Linked DNA regions of Homo sapiens: region 2 is linked to region 1. The links come from fine-mapping of genetic effects on gene expression. A gene starts in region 1. The other region holds a variant in brackets. All regions are shown on one strand. Distances are between the middles of the regions. Region 1 holds the start of ARIH2 (ariadne RBR E3 ubiquitin protein ligase 2). Region 2 overlaps PFKFB4 (6-phosphofructo-2-kinase/fructose-2,6-biphosphatase 4).

Region 1 (10,689 bases):
GGTTACTAATGAAAAGCTTTGTGTAAATGTGTGTGTGGGTAGCTATAAATATAGACATACACTGAATTTATTTATTTATTTTTTATTTTTATTTTTTTGAGACAGAGTCTTGTTCTGTTGCCCAGGCTGGAGTACAGTGGAGCGATCTCGGCTCACTGCAACCTCTGCCTCCCGAGTTCAAGCAATTCTCTTGCCTCAGCCTCCTGAGTAGCTGGGATTACAGGCATGTGCCACCATGCCTGACTAATTTTTGTATTTTTAGTAGAGACAGGGTTTCACTATGTTGGTCAGGCTGTTCTCGAACTCCTGACCTCATGATCCGTCTGCCTCGGCCTCCCAAAGTGCTGGGATTACAGGCATGAGCCACTGCACCCGGCCGACATGTACTGTATTTAGATGCATAGAAAGTGTCCTAGAAGGATGCACACCAAACTCTGGACAGTGGCAACAACCCCAAATAGGAGAAAAGAAAGGTGGAGTATATTAACGGGAGTATTCACAAGCTGCTATCAGTATTCTTGTATTACATTTTTACAACTTCATGTTATCATTACATTAGTTGCATAATTAAATTCAATAAAAACAAAGATGAATAAGATGAGAGATATACTGATATATGCAATATGTGCTTTGTGACACATATTTTCCAAAAATGGCTACACCAACCTGTATCTCATTTTATATGCTTTGCTTATAATGCAGTGTTGGTGTTTCTCCATTGACGGTGGAGCTGCATTCCCTCCCCTTGAACCTGAGAGGATCTTTGTAACTGCTTTGACTAATAAAATGTGGCAGATGTAATGCCGTGTGACTTTGAAGGTTAGGCCACAAAGGGCAACATGGCTTCCACTTGGCTCTCACTCTCTTAAGACCCTTGCCCTTGGCCGGCCAGAGTGGCTCACACCTGTTATCCCAGAATTTTGGGAAGCTGAGACAGGCAAATCACTAGAGACCAGGGGTTCTAGACCAGCCTGGCCAACATGGTGAAACCCCATTTCTTTCTTTTTTTTTTTTTTTTCTCGAGACAGAGTCTCACTTTGTCGCCCAGGCTGGAGTGCAGTGGCACGAGTGGCGCGATCTTGGCTCACTGCAACCTCCACCTCCCAGGTTCAAGCAATTCTCCTGCCTCAGCCTCCCAAGTAGCTGGGATTACAGGTGCCCACCACCAAGCCCGGCTAATTTTTGTATTTTTTAGTAGAGACGGGGTTTCACCATGTTGGGCAAGCTGGTTTCGAACTGCCGACCTCAGGCAATCTGCCCGTCTCGGCCTCCCAAAGTGCTGGGATTACAAGTGTGAGCCACCGCGCCTGGCAGTGAAATCCCATTTCTACTAAAAATACAAAAATTGACTGGGCCTGGCAGCTCACATCTGTAATCCCAGCACTTCGGGAGACCGAGGCAGGCAGATGGCTTGAGGTCAGGAGTTCAAGACCAGCCTGGCCAACATGGAGAAACCCCGTCTCTACTAAAGATACAAAATTAGCCAGGCATGGTGGTGCATGCCTGTAATCCTAGCTACCTGGGAGGCTGAGCGGGGAGAATTGCTTGAATCCGGGAGGCGGAGGTTGTGGTGAGCCGAGATCGCACCATTGTACTGCAGCCTGGGCAACAAGAGCAAAATTCCATCTCAAAGAAAAAAAAACAGAAAAAATAGCTGAACATGGTGTGCACGCCTGTCATCCTGACATCTCAGCTACTATGGAGGCTGAGGCACAAGAATCACTTGAACCCAGGAGGTTGCAGTGAGTTGAGATCATGCCACTGCACTCCAGCCTGGGCGATAGAGTGATACTCTGTCTCAAAAAAAAAAAAAAAAAGACCTTTGCCCTTCAAATCCAGCCACCATGTTACCAGGAAGCACAGGCCACATGGAGAGATCATGCATGTGTATGTTCTGGCTGACAGCCCCAGCTAGGCCCCCAGCTGACATCACCCACCAGAAGTATGAGTAAACAACTTTGCCTATGATTCCACTCCCCAGTCTTTGAGTCTTCTTGCTGAGGCCCCCTCAGCTGTGGAGCTGAGATAAACCTTCCCATTGTGGCTTGTCTGGATTCCTGTTCCAAAGAAACCATGAGAGACTTTGTATATTTTATATGCATTCATATTTTATTTACTTTTTCTTTTTTGAGACAGAGCTACTGTGTTGCCCAGGCTGGAGTGCAGTGGTGCAATCTCGGCTCGCTGCAACCTCCGCCTCCCGGGTTCAAGTTATTCTCCCTGCCTCAGCCTCCCGAGTAGCTGGAATTACAGGCATGCACCACCATGCCTGGCTAATTTTTGTATTTTTTAGTAGAGACAGGGTTTTGCCATGTTGGTCAGGCCGGTCTGGAACTCCTGACCTCAGGCGATCCGCCCGCCTCCACCTCCCAAAGTGCTGGGATTACAGGTGTGAGCCACCACACCCGGCCCCTATCCTATTCTTATCACTTGAGTATATCACAAATAACCTTTCCTTGTCAATAGGTGCCTTAGTACAGCATTTTTTTTTCTTTTTTTGAAGACAGGTTCTGGCTCTGTCCCCCAGGCTGGAGTGCAGTAGCCCGATCTCTTGCTCACTGCAGCCTCCACATCCTGGGTCTTAAGTGATCCTCCCACCTCAGCCTCCCAAGTAGGTGGAGCTATAAGCACATCCAGCTAACTTGTATTTTTTGTAGAGACGGGGTTTCACCATGTTGCTCAGGCTGGTCTTGAACTCCTAGGCTCAAGTGATCCACCTGCCTCAGCCTCCCAAAGTGCTGGGATTACAGGCGTGAGCCACCACACCTGGCCAAAACTTTTTCTTTTTTTTGTAGACATGGAATCTCACTATGTTGCCCAGGCTGGTCTCCAACTCCTGGGCTCAAGCAATCCTCTCACCTTGGCTTCCCAAAGTGCTGGGATTACAGGCTTGAGCCACCATGCCCTGCCACCCAGTATGATTTATTTCATTTTTTTTGGTAAAGTGAAAGCAAGTTTATTAGAGAAGTAAAGAAACAAAGGAGACCAGGAGCAGTGGCTCACGCCTGTAATCCCAGAACTTTGGGAGGCCGAGGTGGGCGGATCAAGGAGTCAAGAGATCCAGACCATCCTGGCCAACATGATGAAACCTTGTCTCTACTAAAAATACAAAAATTACCATCCTGGCTAACACGGTGAAACCCCGTCTCTACTAAAAATACAAAAAAAATTAGGCGTGGTGGCGGGCGCCTGTAGTCCCAGCTACTCGGGAAGCTGAGGCAGGAGAATGGCGTGAACCCGGGAGGCGGAGCTTGCAGTGAGCCTAGATCGCGCCACTGCACTCCAGCCTGGGCAACAGAGAGAGACTCCGTCAAAAAAAAAAAAAAAAAAAAAAAATTAGCTGGGCGCGGTGGTGCGCGCCTGTAGTCCCAGCTACTCGGGAGACTGAGGCAGGAGAATCACTTGAACCCAGGAAGCGGAGGTTGAAGTGAGCGGAGATAGCGGCTCTCTCACTGCACTCCAGCCTGGGCGACAGAGCGAGACTCCGTCTCAAAAAAAAAAAAAAAAAAGTAATTGCTACTCCATAGGCAGAGCAGTCCACCCGACAAGGTTTTTGTTGTTGTTGTTGTTTGAGACAGAGTCTCGCTCTGTCCCCCAGGCTGGAGTGCAGTGGCGCGATCTCTGCTCGCTGCAACCTCCGCCTGCCGAGTTCAAGCAATTCTCCTGCCTCAGCCTCCCGAGTAGCTGGGACTACAGGCGCCCACCATCACGCCCGGCAAATTTTGTAAATTTTTAGTAGAGACAGGGTTTCACCATGCTGGTCAGGCCAGTCTCGAATTCCTGACCTCGTGATCTGCCGGCTCCGGCCTCCCAACGTGCTGGGATTACAGGCGTGAGCCACGGTGCCCGGCCACGCGGCATGATTTTTAATGGCTTTCTACATTGTATGGTTTGTTATTGTTGTTTTGAGACAGGGTCTCCTTCTATCACCGATGCTGGACTGCAGTGGTGCGATCTTGGCACTCTGCAGCCTCGACCTCCTCGGCTCAAGCGATCCTATATCACCTCAGCCCCCTGAGTAGCTGGGATGCACAGGTGTGTGCCACCTCGCCCAGCTAATTTTTAATTTTTTTGTAGAAAGGAGGGGGGTCTCACTACATCAAATTCTTGGGCTCAAGCGATCCTCCCACCTCGGCTTCCCAAAGTGCAGGGATTACAGGCATGAGCCACAGCGACCAGCCAGCACAGGTGTCTTTATTTGTTTTATTTTTTATTTTATTTTATTTTATTTTGAGACAGAGTCTCGCTCTGTCGCCCAGGCTGGAGTGCAGTGGCGCCATCTCGACTCACTGCAAGCTCCGCCTCCCGGGTTCACGCCATTCTCCTGCCTCAGCCTCCCGAGTAGCTGGGACTACAGGCGCCCGCCACCACGTCCGGCTAATTTTTTTGTACTTTTAGTACAGACGGGGTTTCACCGTGTTAGCCAGGATGGTCTCGATCTCCTGACCTCGTGATCCACTCGCCTCGGCCTCCCAAAGTGCTGGGATTACAGGCTTGAGCCACCGCGCCCGGCCTGCACAGGTGTCTTGAATATGTATATACGCGACTCCAGTATGGTTGGAAATGATTTGATTTGTTGTCTATGGAATTGCACAACCTGGAGCCTTCCTAACATCAGCGGCTTCATACTGGCATTTCCATTGTGGTGCAGCAACAATCTGAGTGAGCCTCCGTCTCTAGCCACATCATTTGACAACCGGTCCCAGAAGGTAACTGGAAGTCATGATGACAACTCCTATACTGTGAAAAGAAACTGCAAGCAAGGCAGTTAAGATGCAATCTTGCACGGTGACCGTAAGTCGGAGAACTGCGCGGCGAACGAGGCCTCGGCAGGGGAAGCGAAAGCCTGGTGTGGTTGCGGCTCTGGGGCCACCCTGCGACCGCCTCGGGGTGTAGGCAGAATTTCCCGGCCCAGCTCCCCTCTGACCAGATAGCGGCCGAGAAACAATGGTTATCTGCTCCACTGACGCCAGGATGTCTTCTCCGTGCCCGATCCCGGAGTACAAACAGTGAAATGAGAAGCCGGTGAGAAACGCGCTGGTTAAAAACATCTCGACGGGAGACGCTGGTAGGCGAATAGTGGCTCCAGACGCGGTCGGCGCCTGCCGTACCCTGGTCAGACTCTGGGTCAGAGCGCTAAGTTTCAAGGAGGCGGCGCTAAACAGGCCCTCTAGCCGGGAGCCTGTCGCGACCCGAGCGACCGTGGGTCGACCCCGATCCGGAAGTGACGCAACGGCGCCAAGCACTTCCGGAGCTGTGGGGACGACTCTTCTGGAGGAAGCAGCGCGGGCTTGACCGGCGTCGGCCCGCCGCCTCCGCTGCCGCTTCGCCCCAATCCGGTCCCTCTGGCCCGGCCTGACCCGGTCTGGCTTGTTCGGGCTCAGCGGCCGCGAGGCCGCAGCTCCCGGTAAGTGCGCGGCGCACGTCACGGCCTTGTTTACCTTGGCTGGCCGCTGGGGGGGCCTCTCCGCGCGCCTCCCTGGCCGGGCCGGGACTCCGCCTTCGCCGTCGCCCGGGAGGCCCGGGCGCTCCCCGTCGCCGGCACGTTGTCCGAGCATTACCCGCCGTCAGCGGCCGGGCGCCCAGCGTGTGTCTGCCTTTTTTCCTCCCGCCGCCTTCTCAGCTCTCGGAAAGGTCAGAGGCCACCGCCTCTGACCAACCGGCGCCGGCACATCTAGGCCCTCTCTCCCTGTCTGGCGCGGCGGGGAAACGCGCCGCCTCGGGGCTCACCACTCGAGTCATCTTTGGGAGCTCTCGCAGCGCTGCCCGCGCGGTTTAACGCCCGCCTGTGGAGGGTATCCCCAGCTCGCGGGCTCCGCGTCCGCGCGAATATCCCGGAGCCCGCGGCGCCCCTAGGGATGTGCGGCCCCGGAGCTGTGCCGCCGCCTCGCCAGAAGCTGGTTGGGCAGCCGCGTTCTTGGATGACTTCTCCTTAGTACTGTTCATTGCCTGGTCCCATAGAACTTTCTGTCATAGCGACATGTTCTTTACCTTTGCTGTTCAGCATGGTAGCTACTAGCCACACGTGGCCGTTAAGCATTTGACCTGTAGGCTAGTGCACCTGAGAAACTAAATTTTAAATTTTACTTACTTTTTAAGTGTAATTAAATTTAAATAACCACATGTGGCTAGTGGTCACCGTATTAGAAAAGACAGATACAAAGTGTAGGATTTTGAAACGAAATTGCTGATTTCTAGTTTTGTGCCAAGTCGTTTTTCTTCGGAGGTGTAGTTAGTAAATGACCTGAATTCAGCGCTAGTGATCATATCTGGAGTAAACGTCTTCAGACTCACTAAAACTTACGTGTTCTGTGCGTGGTGGGCAAGCCCAGGATGGTTGGTTGTTAGGTCCCCTGAACATGTGACTTTGGCTCTGGAGGAAATTTTTTTTTTTTTTTTTTTTGGTGGGCGGGACAAAGTTGCTGTCACCAGGCTGGAGTGCAGTGGCGGCGATCACAGCTAACTGCAGCCCCGACTTTCTGGGCTCAAGTGATCCTCCTTTCTTAGCCTCCTAAGTAGCTGGGACCACAGGCACGTACCACCACACCTGGCTAATTTGTAAAATTTTTTGTGGATACGTGATCTTAATAGGTTGCCTAAGCTGGTCTTGAACTGCTGGGCTCAAGCTATCCTCCCGGTTTGACCTCCTAAAGTGCTGGGATTACAGGCGTGAGCCACTGTGCATGACCTTTAAAAAAATTTTTTTTGAAAAAGTGCCCGGCCCACTTTTTCAAGTAGAATTCGGATATTTAACTTTGAGATGATTAAAAATTAAATTTTCATTTAAATGTGCACCTAGAACATTTAGTATGAAATGGAGTTCTCTCTCTTTTTTTTTTGGAGGAGCCTGGAGTTTTCCCCACCTAAATATTTGGTTGGTGAGAAGCCTGTGAGCAATTTCTTTTTTTTTTTTTTTTTTTGACACGGAGTCTCACTGTGTTGCCCAGGCTGGAGTGCAGTGGTGCAGTCTCGGTTCACTGCAGCCTCCATCTCCCAGATCAAGCAGTTCTGCCTTAGCCTCCCGAGTAGCTGGGATTACAGCTGGGATTACACCCAGGCTGGTTGGAGGGCAGTGGCGTGATCATGGCTCGCTGCAATCTCCTGGACTCAAATAATCCTCCTCACTTTGGGAGGCCGAGGCGGGCGGATCACGAGGTCAGGAGATCGAGACCATCCTGGCTAACACGGTGAAACCCCATCTCTACTAAAAATACAAAAAATTAGCCAGGCATGGTGGCGGGCGCCTGTAATCCAGTGAGCCGAGATCGCGCCACTGCACTCCAGCAAGACTCTCAAAAAAAAAAAAAAAGAAAGAAAAGAAAAGAAATATTGTCCCCTTGGAACAAGATCAGCACTTTTTCTTTCTTTCATTTATTTATTTTTATTTTTGAGTCCCGCTCTGTCTCTCAGGCTGGAGTGCAGTGGCGCGATCTCGGCTCACTGCAACCTCCGCCTCCTGGGTTCAAGCGATTCTCCTGCCTCAGCCTCCTGAGTAGCTGGGATTATAGGCGCATGCTACCACGCCCAGCTAATTTTTGTATTTTTAGTAGAGACAGGATTTCATCATGTTGATTAGGCTGGTCTCGAACTCTTGACCTTGTGATCTGCCACCTTAGCCTCCCAAAGTGTTGGGATCACAGGCGTGAGCCACCGTGCCCGGCCCACTTTTTCAAGTAGAATTTGGGTATTTAACTTTGAGATAATTAAAAATTAAATTTTCATTTAAATCTGCACCTAGAACATTTAGTATGAAATGGAGTTCTCTCTCTTTTTTTTTTGGAGGAGCCTGGAGTTTTCCCCACCTAAATATTTGGTTGGTGAAAAGCCTGTGGGCAATTTCTTTTTTTTTTTTTTTTTTTTTGACACGGAGTCTCACTGTGTTGCCCAGGCTGGAGTGCAGTGGTGCAGTCTCGGTTCACTGCAGCCTCCATCTCCCAGATCAAGCAATTCTCCTGCCGTAGCCTCCCGAGTAGCTGGGATTACAGGTATGCGCCACCATTCCTGGCTAATTTTTGTGTTTTTTGTAGCAGTGAGGTTTCACCATGTTGCCCAGGCTTGTTTTGAACTCCTGAGCTGAAGCCGTCCACCCACCTTGGCCTCCCAAACCAAAGTGCTGGGATTACTGGCATGAGCCACCACACGTGGTCCTGGAATTTTTCTTTTTTTTTTTCTTTTTTGAAGACAGGGTCTCACTCTGTCGCCTAGACTGGAGTGTAGTGGCGTGATCTTGGCTCACTGCAGCCTCAACCTCCTGTGCTCAAGAAATCCTCCCACCTCAGCCTCCCAAGTAGCTGGGACTACAGGCATGCACCACCACGACATTTATGAGTAATGTGACATAAATGAGCCACGACAGCATGAGTAAAGTGAGATCTGAAATATTAGCATTATTCTGTGTTAGATTACCACAGTGGAGGTGATTTTGTAGTAAAAGTTAAATTTTAAGTCAGTTACAATTTGCTTGGTCAACATCTACATAACATTTAGGATTGAAATTGTGGTAGTTGAGAATCTGAAGGACAGAAATACTGGAGTAAAGAAGCAGGCTTTCAGCTGGGTGAGGTGGAGGTTACAGTGAGCTGAGATGGCAACACTGCACTCCAACCTGGGTGACAGAGGGAGGCCCTGTCTCAAACAAACAAAAAAAAGAAGTGGTCTTTCAAACTGAGAGAGAGAATTGAGATTAAATTATTGCTACCTGTTTACTTAGATTACTTTCTTTTTTTTTTTTTTGAGACGAATTTTCTTGTCACCCAGGCTCAAGTGCAGTGGCGCGATCTCACCTCACTGCAACCTCTGCCTCCCTGGTTGGAGTGATTCTCCTGCCTCAGCCTTCCGAGTAGCTGGGATTACAGGTGCTCGAACTCCTGACCTCAGGTGATCCACCTGCCTTGGCCTCCCAAAGTGCTGGGATTACAGGCGTGAGCCACAACACCCAGCTGAATACTTTCTTTTTTTAGAAGGTCATGTAACTCTTGTCAATATAATTATGTCATGGATTTTTTTTGTTGGCACTTTAAAAGAAGATAATTAATTTAATAGTTACTCTGTCCCTTGTTACTTGTCCTTTAAAATACCTTTGCTTTAAAAAAAAAATAAACTTGCAAAAGCAGTATACCAGCTTTAAAAATATAAATATAATTCTTTTCATTTTAGATGGAAATCATATTATGTAGAATACTTGGGTGACATCTGCCTGAGAGATCTCCAAGAATTACAGGTATCTTTAATTTAAAGATTAACTTTTTCTCCTAAAGAAAAAACACCATCGTTAAGTTTAGTTGTGATTATGTGGCTCTACCATACAGAAGAGTTTGTTAAAAGTCAAACTGCTGGCCAGGCACAGTGGCTTGCATCTGTAATCCCAGCACTTTGGGAGGCTGAGGTGGGCGGATCACGAGGTCAGGAGATCGAGACCATCCCGGCTAAAACGGTGAAACCCCGTCTCTACTGAAAATACAAAAAATTAGCCGGGCGTAGTGGCGGGCGCCTGTAGTCCCAGCTACTTGGGAGGCTGAGGCAGGAGAATGGCGTGAACCCGGGAGGCAGAGCTTGCAGTGAGCCGAGATCCCGCCACTGCACTCCAGCCTGGGCGACAGAGCGAGACTCCGTCTCAAAAAAAAAAAAGAAACCTTATCTCTATTAAAAATACAAAAAAAATTAGCTGGGCATTGTGGCATGTGCTTGTAATCCCAGCTACTGAGAGACTGAGGCAGGAGAATTGCTTGAACCCGGAAGGCAGAGGTTGCAGTGAGCTGAGATCGTGCCACTGCATTCCAGCCAGGGTGACAGAGTGAGACTCTGTCTCAAAAAAAAAAAAAGGTCAGACTGCAAACATTATTTTTATTGCCCCACAATTAATAGGGTTTTTTTTTTAATTTTTAGAAATGGGAGCATTTATAGTTAACATATCAACTTAGATATAGTGAGTGTTTTTTTTTTTTTTTAAGATAGAGTTTCCCTCTTGTTGCCCAGGTTGGAGTGTAATGATGCAATCTTGTCTCACTGCAGTCTTTGCCTCCGGGGTTCAATCCATTCTCCTGCTTCAACCTCCTGAGTAGCTGGGATTACAGGCATGTGCCACCACGCCCAGCTAATTTTGTGTTTTTAGTAGAGACGGGGTTTCTCCATGTTGGTCAGGCTGGCCTTGAACCCCCGACCTTAGGTGATCCACCCGCCTCGGCCTCCCAAAGTGCTGGGATTACAGGTGTGAGCCACCGCGCCTCGCCAATATTTTTATTATATAAAAATGTGACTGTAGGCTGGGCACAGTGGCTCTTGCCTATAATCCCAGCGTTTTGTAAGGCCAACGCAGGAGGATCGCTTGAGGCCAGGAGTTTGAAACCAGCCTGAGCAACATAGTAAAACCCTGTTTATACAAAAAATAAAATTAGGTATGGGGGTGGCATATGCCTGTAGTCCCAGTTACTCAGGAGGCTGAGGCAGGAGGATCTGTTGAGCTCAGGAGTTGGAAGCTGCAGTGGGCCATGATCATGTTTTTATATCTCAGACTGGGTGACAGAGTGATACTATGTCTCAGTACTCCATAGTCTTTTAGACTGGTTACAAATTCTTTTTCCTTTTGGTAGACGTGAGTGTCACTATGTTACCCAGGCTGGTTTGGAACTCCTGGTTTTGAATGATCCTCCAGCCTCAGCCTCCCAAAGTGTGGGGATTATGATACAGGCG
Region 2 (10,689 bases), 400 kb before region 1:
CAGAGTCTCGCTCTGTCACTCATGCTGGAGTGCAGTGGCAAAATCATAGCTCACTGCAGCCTCAACTTACTGGGCTCAAGCGGTCCTCCCCCCCTCAGACTCCTGAGTAGCTGGGATTACAGGCACGCACCACCATGCCCAGCTAAGTTTTTGATCTTTTTGTAGAGACAAGGTCTCATTATGCTGCCCAGGCTAATCTCAAATGATTACAGCCATGAGCCGCTGTACCCCACCTCATTTTTCACTTTTAATAAAATAGTTTTGCCAATACAGTGGTACGTGCTTGTAATCCCAGCTACTCAGGAGGCTGAGGCAGGAGGATCGCTTGGTCATGAGTTCATAACCAGCCAGAGCTACAGAGCAAGATCCTGTTTTTGTTTTTGCCTTTGAGAGAGGGTCTTATTTTGTCGCCCAGGTTGCAGTGGCCTGACCCCGGCTCACTGCAACCTCCAACTTCTGGGCTCAAGTATTCTCTTGTCTCAGCCTCCCAAGTAGCTAGGACTGTAGACACGTGCCACCACACTTAGTCATTTGAAAATTTTTTTTGTAGAGATAGGGTCTCATTATGCTCCCCAGGCTGGTCTCAAACTCCTGGGCTCACACAACTCTCCCACCTCGGCCTCTTAAAGCACTGGGATTACAGGTGTGAACTACTGTGTTCGGTGCAAGACCCCGTTTTTACAAAAATAAGATAAAATAGTTTCGTTTAAACAATAATGTACCCAGTAATGATCAGTCTAAACCAAATATGGCAACACTCTTCTCTGCAAGTAAGAAGTATTATATATATATTTTTAGATATAAATCCAATATTGCTGAAACCTACCTATGTCTTTGCAACAATATTTGATTCTATCCAAATATTATCTGATCCTTTCAAGCTCATTCTTATTGGTGTAAGAAAAAATGAAAATAGCCAGGTGCAGTGGCTCACGCCTGTAATCACAGCACTTTGGGCGGCCAAGGCGGGCAGATCACCTGAGGTCAGGAGTTCTAGACAAGCCTGAACAACATGAAGAAACCCCATCTCTACTAAAAATACAAAATTAGCTGGGCATGGTGGCGCATGCCTGTAATCCCAGCTACTTGGGAGGCTGAGGTAGGAGAATTGCTTGAACTCAGGAGGGGCAGGTTGCAGTGAGCGGAGATCACGCCATTGCACTCCAGCCTGGGCAACAAGAGTGAAACTCCGTCTCAAAAAAATAAAATAAAATAAAAAACAAATATCCTGTGACCCTATATGATGGCTATTATTTCCCAGTAACCCAAAATGCTACTCAACATAATAATATAATTGCCCTTTCTAGGTTATGGTACAACACTGGACCTGAAGAAAAACTCTGATATTGTTATATTTCATTCCTTTTATTGTTTTCTACTAAAATCTTCAAAACCTTCTTCCAAAAGTGCTGAGAAGCCTCAAAGGGAGTCAGGTGTCCACCCTAGGAACTCAGAGCCAAGAGACAGGTGAGGACCCCCGAAGCTGTCCCCCAGGCTCTCACCAGGCAGAGGTTAGTCACCACCTGAATCCTGCAAAGTTGCCTCTCCCTCAGACACCTTGGCATAGTTGGAGAAGGCAGAAACATAGCTGCTGGCCACCCCAAACCACCCAGAAGCAGCCCAGCGACAGCCATCCTCTGCCCTGACACACTGGGAGGAGCACAGGCGAACACCCGGCAATGCCCTGCCCCATCTTGCCCACAGAGGAGCCCCGCCTACAACCCACTTCCCGGAAAGCCAGCTCCAGGGCAGGAAGTATGGACAGCCCATGATGTTCTGAGGCATGGGAAAGAGAACACCCAGCCCCTTGTCTCCACCTTCCCGACCCCAGATGCAGGTGACAAAGACAATACCAGAATAGGCCGGGTGCAGTGGTTCACGCCTGTAATCCCAGCACTTTGGGAGGCCAAGGCGGGTGCATCACCTAAGGTTGGGAGTTCAAGACAAGCCTGACCAACATGGAAAAACCCTGTCTCCACTAAAAATATAAAAACTAGCTGGGTATGATGGTGCATGCCTGTAATCCCAGCTGCTCGGGGAGGCTGAGGCAGGAGAATTGCTTGAACCCGAGGCGGAGGTCGTGGTGAGCCAAGATCGTGCCATTGCACTCCAGCCTGGCCAACAAGAGTGAAACTCCGTCTCCAAAAAATAAAAATAAAAAAAGAAAAAGAAAATACCAAAACACTGGTCAGCATACTGTCACCACAGCCTCACGCAGCCACTACATCCTTGACCCAGCTCCCGGGGCCTCCTCCCCAAGAATGCCGCATTTGGAGCCCACATTCCCAGGGACCCCAGAATCCTTCCCTTAACAGTGCTCCACTCCAGCTGCACTGCCCCCTCCACATCTGCCTCATGTTCAGGGCCAAGGGCCCCATACCCCAGGTCAGCCCAGGGAAGACCCAGGCCGCCTGCCCATGTATGCCAGGCCAGGACTCACTCCAGGGCAGCATAATTCCTCTTCAGTGAGAGTGAACATGGGGGTGGAAGCTGAACGAAGGATCCCAACACAGACCTGCGAGGAAGACCACAGCACCAGGTGTCGACAGAGCAGGCCAGAAAAAAAACACTTCAGAAATGGAGAACTGGCTACCAAATACAACCTGAGATTATTTTTTAAAAAGTATTTATTGCAAAGAATGCTGGACACAGTGTTGCATGTGGCTGAGATTCAATACCATCCATTCTGGGGAACTCGGGAAAATATCTGCAACATGGGCACGCCAGCCAGCATGGCCGAAATGTGGCAGCCAATCAGCTACACCTCAGCCCATGCGGAGACCATGCCAGGGCAGAGGCCGGGGGGTTGCCCCCACTCATGCCCTGATCCCTGGATGTCCCTCTACCCTGTCCCCAGTCCTCGTAATGCATCCAGTCCAGCAACTCCTAACTCCCCTCTGTACACAGAGAGAAAAGGCCTCGGTGGTCTCACCTCAGATGACATCCAGAGGTACATGCACTGTTGCTGACCAAGGGAACCCACTATGGCTAACAAATGAGTGTGTCCAGGTGACAAAAGTCACCAAAACTCCAAAATACACAGAAGCAAAGGCTGCAGTCCTAATGTCCCAAAGGCATGGTCCTTGGGCTCTGGGTCTAAAGGGCTTGGGGCTCTGACAGATGAGTCTGGAAGGATCTTGCCCCGGCTCCGCCTTGGACATCTCTTAGCAGAGCAGCACACAAGGATGAGAGACCACCGGCCAGGGCCAGGGACGCTAACTTCTCTCAGGGACAGGTGGCATCTGCAGGCTGCAAAGCCCTGGGAGGCTGGAAAGATGTGCTACCCTCCAGGCACAGGCCAGGAAAGGCTCCGGACACAAAGGACTTGGGATCCAGGGGCCTGGCTTCCCCAGAGTCCACCTGTGGACAGCAGGGCACCCGATTACAAGTCCAGACACTTTCTGACCCAGCCCCACAACTTGCCAGCCAGTCTGTTTGCCAGCTGTAAACAGACTGCCCAGGCTGCCTCTCTGGGACCAAAAGAACTCAGGGGCATGACAGACACTGGACTTCACAAGGCCATTTTCACCAGACTCACGTGCACATGAATGGAAGGCTGTGCTGCGGCCGGGAAAATCCTCCCTTGCCCAGGGACTGCCTATGGGTTCTGCCTTCTCCCTTCCTCAGACCCACAGGCAGAAGTCAACAAACACCAGAGAAGTTTTACAGGACCATACAAGTGTTTCTGAATTATTTATGGCAAATGCATGTTTCTGCCACCAGTGTACATTCCTGTGTGGACACGGGCAGCAACAGGGGAGAGGCCGCCTCCCCATTGGCTGCCAGTGTCCACAGCCAGGGAAGGGGAGAGGGGGCGGCAGCCTCTCCCTCGAGCACTTCGGTGTGTGCACCAGGAAGGTAACTTCCTGCCCTGTCTTGAAGTGGTTTCACTGTGAGAGCAGGCCTGAAGGGGCACCCCTGGCCACCAGCTCCCCTAAGCATACCTAAGTAGCCGGGTACATGCACAACTGGGGAGGGGCGACCACAACTGCCCCCCTGCCCTCACGTTTCTGTGCATCCCAATGTGCTGAAGCAAGCGCATTGCTTTCATGAATGCCCACAACTAAGGGTGACATGGATACAACGGCCTGGCCAGTGGCTGCCCAGGAAGCATCTGCTGTGGTTGGGGCTCTAGTTCCTGGTGGGTAAGGATGGGAAGGGCTCTCCCTCTCACCAGAGGCAGCAGAAGCTCAGGGCCCCATGAAGACCTGGCCTCTGGCTCAGGAAGTGGCCACAGAGAGGATGGTAGAGGCCCTGTGGAGAGTCACCAGGTCCATGCTGGGCAGCTGGGCCACAGTAGGAACATCACAGCAAGCACTTTCCTTTCACATTGTAGGGTTTCACACTTCACAAAGCCAACTGAGCTGGCGAGAGTGAACACCTAAGAGCTGCGCCGGAAGAAACTGGGGCTGGGCAACCTCCGCGCAGCCCATGCAGATGCAGTCTGGTCAAGTGACTCTTAGCAGCAGGTCAGGAGCCACGCACAACCTTGTCGCCGACTGTCAACAAAGAGCCAGGTGGGCTGGGGTGGGGGCTCTGGGTTCCGCCAGCCATGTGTGGCTTCAAGAATATCCCTGCATGGCATGGTGACTATCACACACACTGGAGGGCCTGGAATGACCCCCTCTGCAGAGAGCAGTGCCTGCCTAGTGGTCAC[A/G]GTGGATGAACATGGTCACTGGTGAGCAGGCACCGTGACAAGGGCTTCCTCTGGAGGTCTTGAGATGTCCACGTTCTGTACAATAAAAACACAGAGCGTTCACTCCATGGCAGGAATAGATGAGATGCCTGCTGTCTGCCGTCCTCATCACTGTGGTTCATCAGGCTTCACATTCTCACTGTAGCAGCCACAGCCGCAAGACTCTAGACCACAAGCTTCCCTAAGAATACATGGCCAAGAGCTTCGTGCCACATAGCGGGTGGATGGACAATAGAACAAAGGTGCGGTGGAGGATGCCACCTCGTTTCCTGCTCCACTGCAGCCAGGTCAGGCAATACCCAAAGCAAGGCCACTCCCACCTCCTATCTCAGGGCTGAGTCAATTGAGGAGGAACCCCTGGCTTGGGGATTTTATCCTCATCTGTGGGGCAGGGAAGGGGTTCAACTCCTGGGGGTGCCTCCTTCCTAGTTTAAAGTGTTGGCACGCAGGTGTCAGAGGTGCCCCAGAAGCCTATGGGCATTTCCTGGTCTGCAGCCTGGTCTGTCCCCTCAGAACTGGGGTACAGGGCCTCCTGAAGCCCTCAGCTATAGAAGGACCCCACCAAACTGCAGAGCTCAGTCCCATCCTTGGCCTGTCGGGCTCAGGGAGTCTCAGGCCTGAGGAATAGGGAATCTGAAACTTCCCTTAGCTCTCTGAGGCTGTCTTATGTGCCCCAGAGCCTGGTGGCCCCTCCTCCCAGCTGTGGGCCCCGGAACCATCACCTGCAGGAGCAGGTCACTGATGACCTGAGCTGCTGCCCCATGCAACATGACATGCCCAGATCTTCAGGGAGAGAGACATGGCCCCCATGGCCCACAGCCTGGGCTCATAGGACCGGCCCCTGGAATTGTAGGGGCAGGTATAATTCTTACTGCTGGGCAGGCTTCCTGAGGCGCCCCTTTTCCACCACAGCCTGCCCCAATGGATGGGCCAGAAGGGAGCCATCCAGGAACCTGGGGTTAGTAGCGGTTTGCCTCTCAGAAGCACCCACCCATAGTGGGCAGAATGACCGCCAGCCACACTATGGTGATGGACTGGTAGGGTCAGCTCCCAAGGGCTGCCAGGCCCAGGGACCTCTCTTACCATCACCCTGCCAACCCAGGGGCCTCTCTTACCATCACTCTGTCAGCGCTGGGGGCCCAGTGCCATCTGGGCCTTCCTTGGCCCAAAGGATGCCCGTTGGGAGGTACGTTCCCCTGTGACTTGTGGGTACCAAATTGGGCCTGGGCTGAACTTGGCCAAGACATGCACGAACTATCAGAGCAATGGGAAGAGAGGCCTGCAGGGTAACTGGTCCTGCTTGGGGGCAGTGGTGTTGGGAAGGGACAGGACACATCTACACACCTGTGCTGTGAGGTCCAAGGCCAGATGTCCTGGTCCAGCCCAAGACGTGCATCCTCAGCAGGGACCCAGAGCCCAAGCAGGCCCCATCATGGATGGCAAGAGGCATGACTGAGGCCCAAGAGCCTTCTCCGTGCAGTGGCCTCCAGGAACTGGGACCGGGGCTCCCAGAAGTGTAGGTCCTATCCTTGGCCCCAGTGGGAGAGGGAGCCAACATTGTGGAGGGACCCCACATGGGACTAAGAGTGGTTCTGAGCTACACTCTGAGGAGCTTCTACCTTCCACAAGGCACTTGGGGAGCACAGGTGGTGACTGCTTTTCTGGACCAAGGTCTCCACCCCATGCTGAGGCCCCTTCAGTATCTGCATGGCCCTTTCCCCAAAAGTACATGATCCCATTTTAATTTTTAAAGGTGCTGGGGTTAGGAAAGGGGCTCATGAGGCCTCGGCTGCAGGGATGGGGAGTGGGAAGAGTGCCCACCTGCCCTCAGAAGGCCAGAAGCCTCATTCTTAGCCTCCAGCCTCATTCTCACTGAGCCCAAGGGCCCCCTTGACTTAGACCTCCAAGTTGCTGCTTGGGAGCCCTGTGGCTCCTCAAGTCCTGGGGCTCCAACCACACCCAAGTTCAGGCACTCCTGAGCCTGGTGGCCCAGAGTCAGGGATTTCCCCATCCCCAGGGCAGGTGCCTTGGGAAGGCCTGATGCAGGCCCCACCCAGAGCCAGGGCCCCGCCCTGCTGATGGGACAACAGTCTTGGCAGAAGACTCAAGCTCCCTCTGGCAGGTGCCGCAGCTGGGCCTGGCCCTGGAGGATGTGCAGTCTGGACACCCCCACATCAGGAACACCCCGCTACCCCAGCAGTGACCCCATTGCTACCTGAGGCCTGTCCCGGTGCGTGTTCACAGCAGCCACGTTCAGGAATATGGACTCCACTTTACAACCTGCCAAAGGGAAGATGCAAATCCATCCCCACTCCTGAAAGGCAGCTGAGCTGCAGATGCTAGAAACTTCTCTTGGAGGGGGGTCTGGGCGTGTGGAATGGAGCAGCCATCTCAGCCTCACTCTAGTTCTTCCACTTTAGGCAGCTCTGGGGAGCCCCGGGAGGAAGGATGAGACACGCTGTCAGACCCACGCATATCTATGTGACGGCCCAGACAGGGCCACACAGAGGCCCCAGGCTCCCCAACCCCAGGACCGAGAGGGATCGGGGGAACAGCAGGCCTAAGTTGAGGTTACTGACTCTCAAAGTCTTCAGGGCCCCCAAACCACCCACATTCCAACTCTACCATATAAGGCCCAGTCAACCGTGTGCCAGGTGCACAGTGCAATGGGGGATGAGGCCATTGTCACACACTGGAGTGACATCAGCTGCCACTGGGCTTCACAGCCATTCCCCCAAGAGCACCTGTGTTAAAGGTGAAGAGCTAAGACCTGAGAGATGAAGAAGTTGCCTGAAGTCTCTGCTGGTATAGCAAGAGGCAGGGTGGGGACTCACACTGCCCTGCACCCAGAATAAAGTCCAGGCCCTGAGGACCAAGGGGCCTTGTGGGGGTTCAGAAAAATCAGTAGAAAAGCCCCTCATGCAGGTAGGCAATGGTTAAGCAAAGTCACTGGGGAGGTCTTCTGTGGCCACATAAACTTTTTCACAACAAACTTTTTTTTTTTTTTTGAGACAGGGTCTCGCTCTGTCGCCCAGGCTGGAGTGCAGTGGTGCGATCTCGGCTCACTGCAAGTTCCGCCTCCCGGGTTCATGCCATTCTCCTGCCTCAGCCTCCCAAGTAGCTGGGACTACAGGTGCCCGCCACTACGCCCAGCTAATTTTTTTGTATTTTTAGTAGAGATGGGGTTTCACCATGTTAGCCAGGAGGGTCTCTATCTCTTGACCTCGTGATCCACCCACCTCGGCCTCCCAAAGTGCTGGGATTACAGGCATGAGCCACCGCACCCAGCCCCAGAACAAACTTTTTAAAAGCAAATTAGGGCCGCAGATGGTAGCTCATGATGGTAGCTCACGCCTGTAATCCCAGCACTTTGGGAGGCCGAGGCAGGTAGATCACCTAAGGTCAGGAGTTCGAGACCAGCCTGACAACATGGTGACACTCTGTCTCTACTAAAAATACAAAAATTAGCTGGGCATGGTGGCAGGCGCCTGTAATCCTAGCTACTCGGGAGGCAGAGGCAAGAGAATCATCTGAACCCGGGAGGTGGAGGTTGTAGTGAGCCTAGATCACGCCATTGCACTCCAGCCTGGGTGACAAAGCGAGACTCCGTCTCAAAGAAAAAAAGCAAATTGGGAAAGGTGGTGGGGTAGTAGGTGGAGGAATGGGCTCCTAACACAATTTTCAAGGAATTCGGAGAAAATCATGGAACTGTGCAGAGATCCAAGGTCATGGCTACCCATGGTCAATGTGCAGGAAGCTTCCTTACCATATGCCACAGGAGTCAGCTTCAGGACTGTGTGCAGCGGACACTTGAGGTAGGGCAGCTGTTCTGTAGACACAGAGGGGGATGGCTAGCACACCAGAAATGCCTGGTGACAGTGCCTACCTTCTCACACAACCTTCCCACCTCCCCCGGGGCACAGCCCACACCTGCTGCCTTGTCGAGGAAGTAGGCCAGCAGGCAGCGCATCACAGCCTGGTGGCAGATGACCAGCACATTCTCTTGCCTCTCCAGCTCCATGATGACAGGCTCCAGTCTCTGGACCAGGTCCTCGTAGGACTGCAAGGGCAAGCAGAGAGGGGTCCCTCAGGCCTGGCTCCGGGGGAGGGACAGACACATCCTGGACACTGGGCCACCTTCCACTCCTGCAGCTACTCACCATTCTGGGAAGCTGTGGCTGGGCCTCCTCCAGCCTAGCCTTCTGAGGCCATGGGGGTGGGCAGCTGAGGAAAGGGGCCACCTTTCCCACCTCAGGGCTAGGTCCTGGTAGGATTGAGAGCGCAGAGCTAGGCCTCAGGCTCCATCCCAGGGTCCACCTCAGTGCCCACCCATGGGGCTCTGCACTGAATCCTCAGCTATAGAATTCATGTGACTGGTGGAGAAGACCTCGCCTGCTTCCAGCCCACAGCAAACAGAGTGCACTGACAAGAGCGAAGGGGAAGAGAGCAAAGACCTGGAACTTTCTGGAGTGTGACTCATCAGAAACAGCTGGGGTCCCCAGGAACTATCCTCAGTCTACCTGCCCAGTATCTTCCCCCTATGCCTGCCGTGATGTACGGTTTAGGCCCCTGCTGGGCCTCTCAACCTGGCAGGTTTAGAGATTTTCATCAGTTTCATCCTTCTGCACACAATGAGTGGTCCTTCAAAAATGGCCTCCAGCAGTCAGAACTGAACGTGCCCCAAGCTTTGATTAGGAAGCAAAAATGACACGCTGATTTGTGCCAGTTCCTGGTAGTTCTGAGAAAATCCTAGACCGGTTCTTTTGGTAACATGAATTTCTCAACCAATTCTCCTCACTGTATTCTCATGTTTGAGCAGCCAGCTGCTTTGTTTCTCCTGACCGTTATCTGGGTTGGTTCTAAATCTGAACTTGGCCTAACATAATGTGGGGAATAATTAATGTTCCCAAGAGCTATACTATCCTGAGGATGGTACAGTGTAGAGACCTGTCAGCCTGGCTTCTGGGTGGAGGTGCTTCTACATGTGTATATATATGTGTACATATGTGTGTTGACGGGGTGTATTTTTATTTGGCCCCTGCCCCAGGCCACCTCCTGGAAGTGGAAGGAGATGCCTCAGTCAAAGGTGACCCTCAGTTTCTGACCTGGGGCCTGGGCTGAACTGTGTCAGAGAAGGTGACAAGTGCAGTGGCTTGTGGTAGCCAACTCATGTGTGGAAGGTCTCCCTGGGTCTGGTGCCAGGGCTGGGGGTGGTGCCTGGAGCCACAGGAAGGACAGGATGGGCTCAGCCTGTGACAAGAGGAAGCATCCAAAGGAAGGATGAGGCCCGAGACAGGGACTCGAGTGAGCTGAGACCCGAGTCCCAGGCCTGCCATGGTCTCCCCAACTCCCCAGCCATTTGAGCGCCCCGGAAAGGGCTGACAACTCGCTGGGAAAGGAGCTGGCCTGGGAATGCCAGGGGACCGCACACTGTCTACAGGGGTCCCAGGAAAGCCTAACTCCGCAGATCCCCCACCTCAGGCCCTGCCCTTCCGAATTCTCCACCCCTGGGAAGGGGAAAGACAAGAATGGAGAGCAGGGAGCCAAAGGTCTCCAGGTTGAAGGCCTGCCCTACATGGCACTGCCCACTCCACACCTGAGGAAGGGACTAAGGCCTGGGCTGCATAGCTGGGAAGGGGTGGAGATGAACCACACACCCAGGCTGGCAGGCCTCTGAGACCAGGCCCCTTCTGCTACCCACGCAGCCCCTGCAGAGCCCCACAGGCCCTCAGCCACAGGTGGTACTCCCAGGCGGGCAGTAGGTGGCTGGGACTAAGCCCCAAATCCCACCTACCTCCCCTTTAGGGTACCGGTACCGGTACTTGTCCTGGTCCCGCAGGGCGAACTCCAGTGGATAATTATCCTGAATTTCCTCGTAGGTCATTTCCTCACAGACGCCCTAGGGAGATACCACAGTCATCACACCTCCTACAGGCCCAGAAGATGAGCCTTGGGGACATGTGGGGTGAGGCAGCATCAAGCAGAAGAGACCA

What was found.
Region 2: its variant is fine-mapped to the expression of ARIH2 in fibroblasts (GTEx, PIP above 0.99).

The regions. Positions count from the first base shown.
Region 1 is chr3:48,913,592-48,924,280 of GRCh38, forward strand. ARIH2 (ariadne RBR E3 ubiquitin protein ligase 2) reads left to right here and starts at 5,251. Exons shown (of 16, transcript NM_006321.4): 1 at 5,251-5,407; 2 at 9,157-9,220. It overlaps ARIH2OS (ARIH2 opposite strand lncRNA), which reads right to left and starts at 5,794. Exons shown (of 1, transcript NR_161301.1): 1 at 4,197-5,794. RefSeq lists enhancers at 4,128-4,878, 4,684-5,153, 4,879-5,630, 5,631-6,381, 8,065-8,565 and 1 more and silencers at 5,324-5,423, 5,494-5,573.
Region 2 is chr3:48,515,075-48,525,763 of GRCh38, forward strand. PFKFB4 (6-phosphofructo-2-kinase/fructose-2,6-biphosphatase 4) reads right to left here. Exons shown (of 14, transcript NM_004567.4): 10 at 10,491-10,595; 11 at 8,627-8,756; 12 at 8,463-8,525; 13 at 6,912-6,976; 14 at 2,610-4,732. The coding sequence ends at 4,673. Among named protein-coding and RNA genes, the nearest start is that of SHISA5, 16 kb to the left of the region's middle. The variant A/G (reference allele first, on the strand shown) is at 4,658.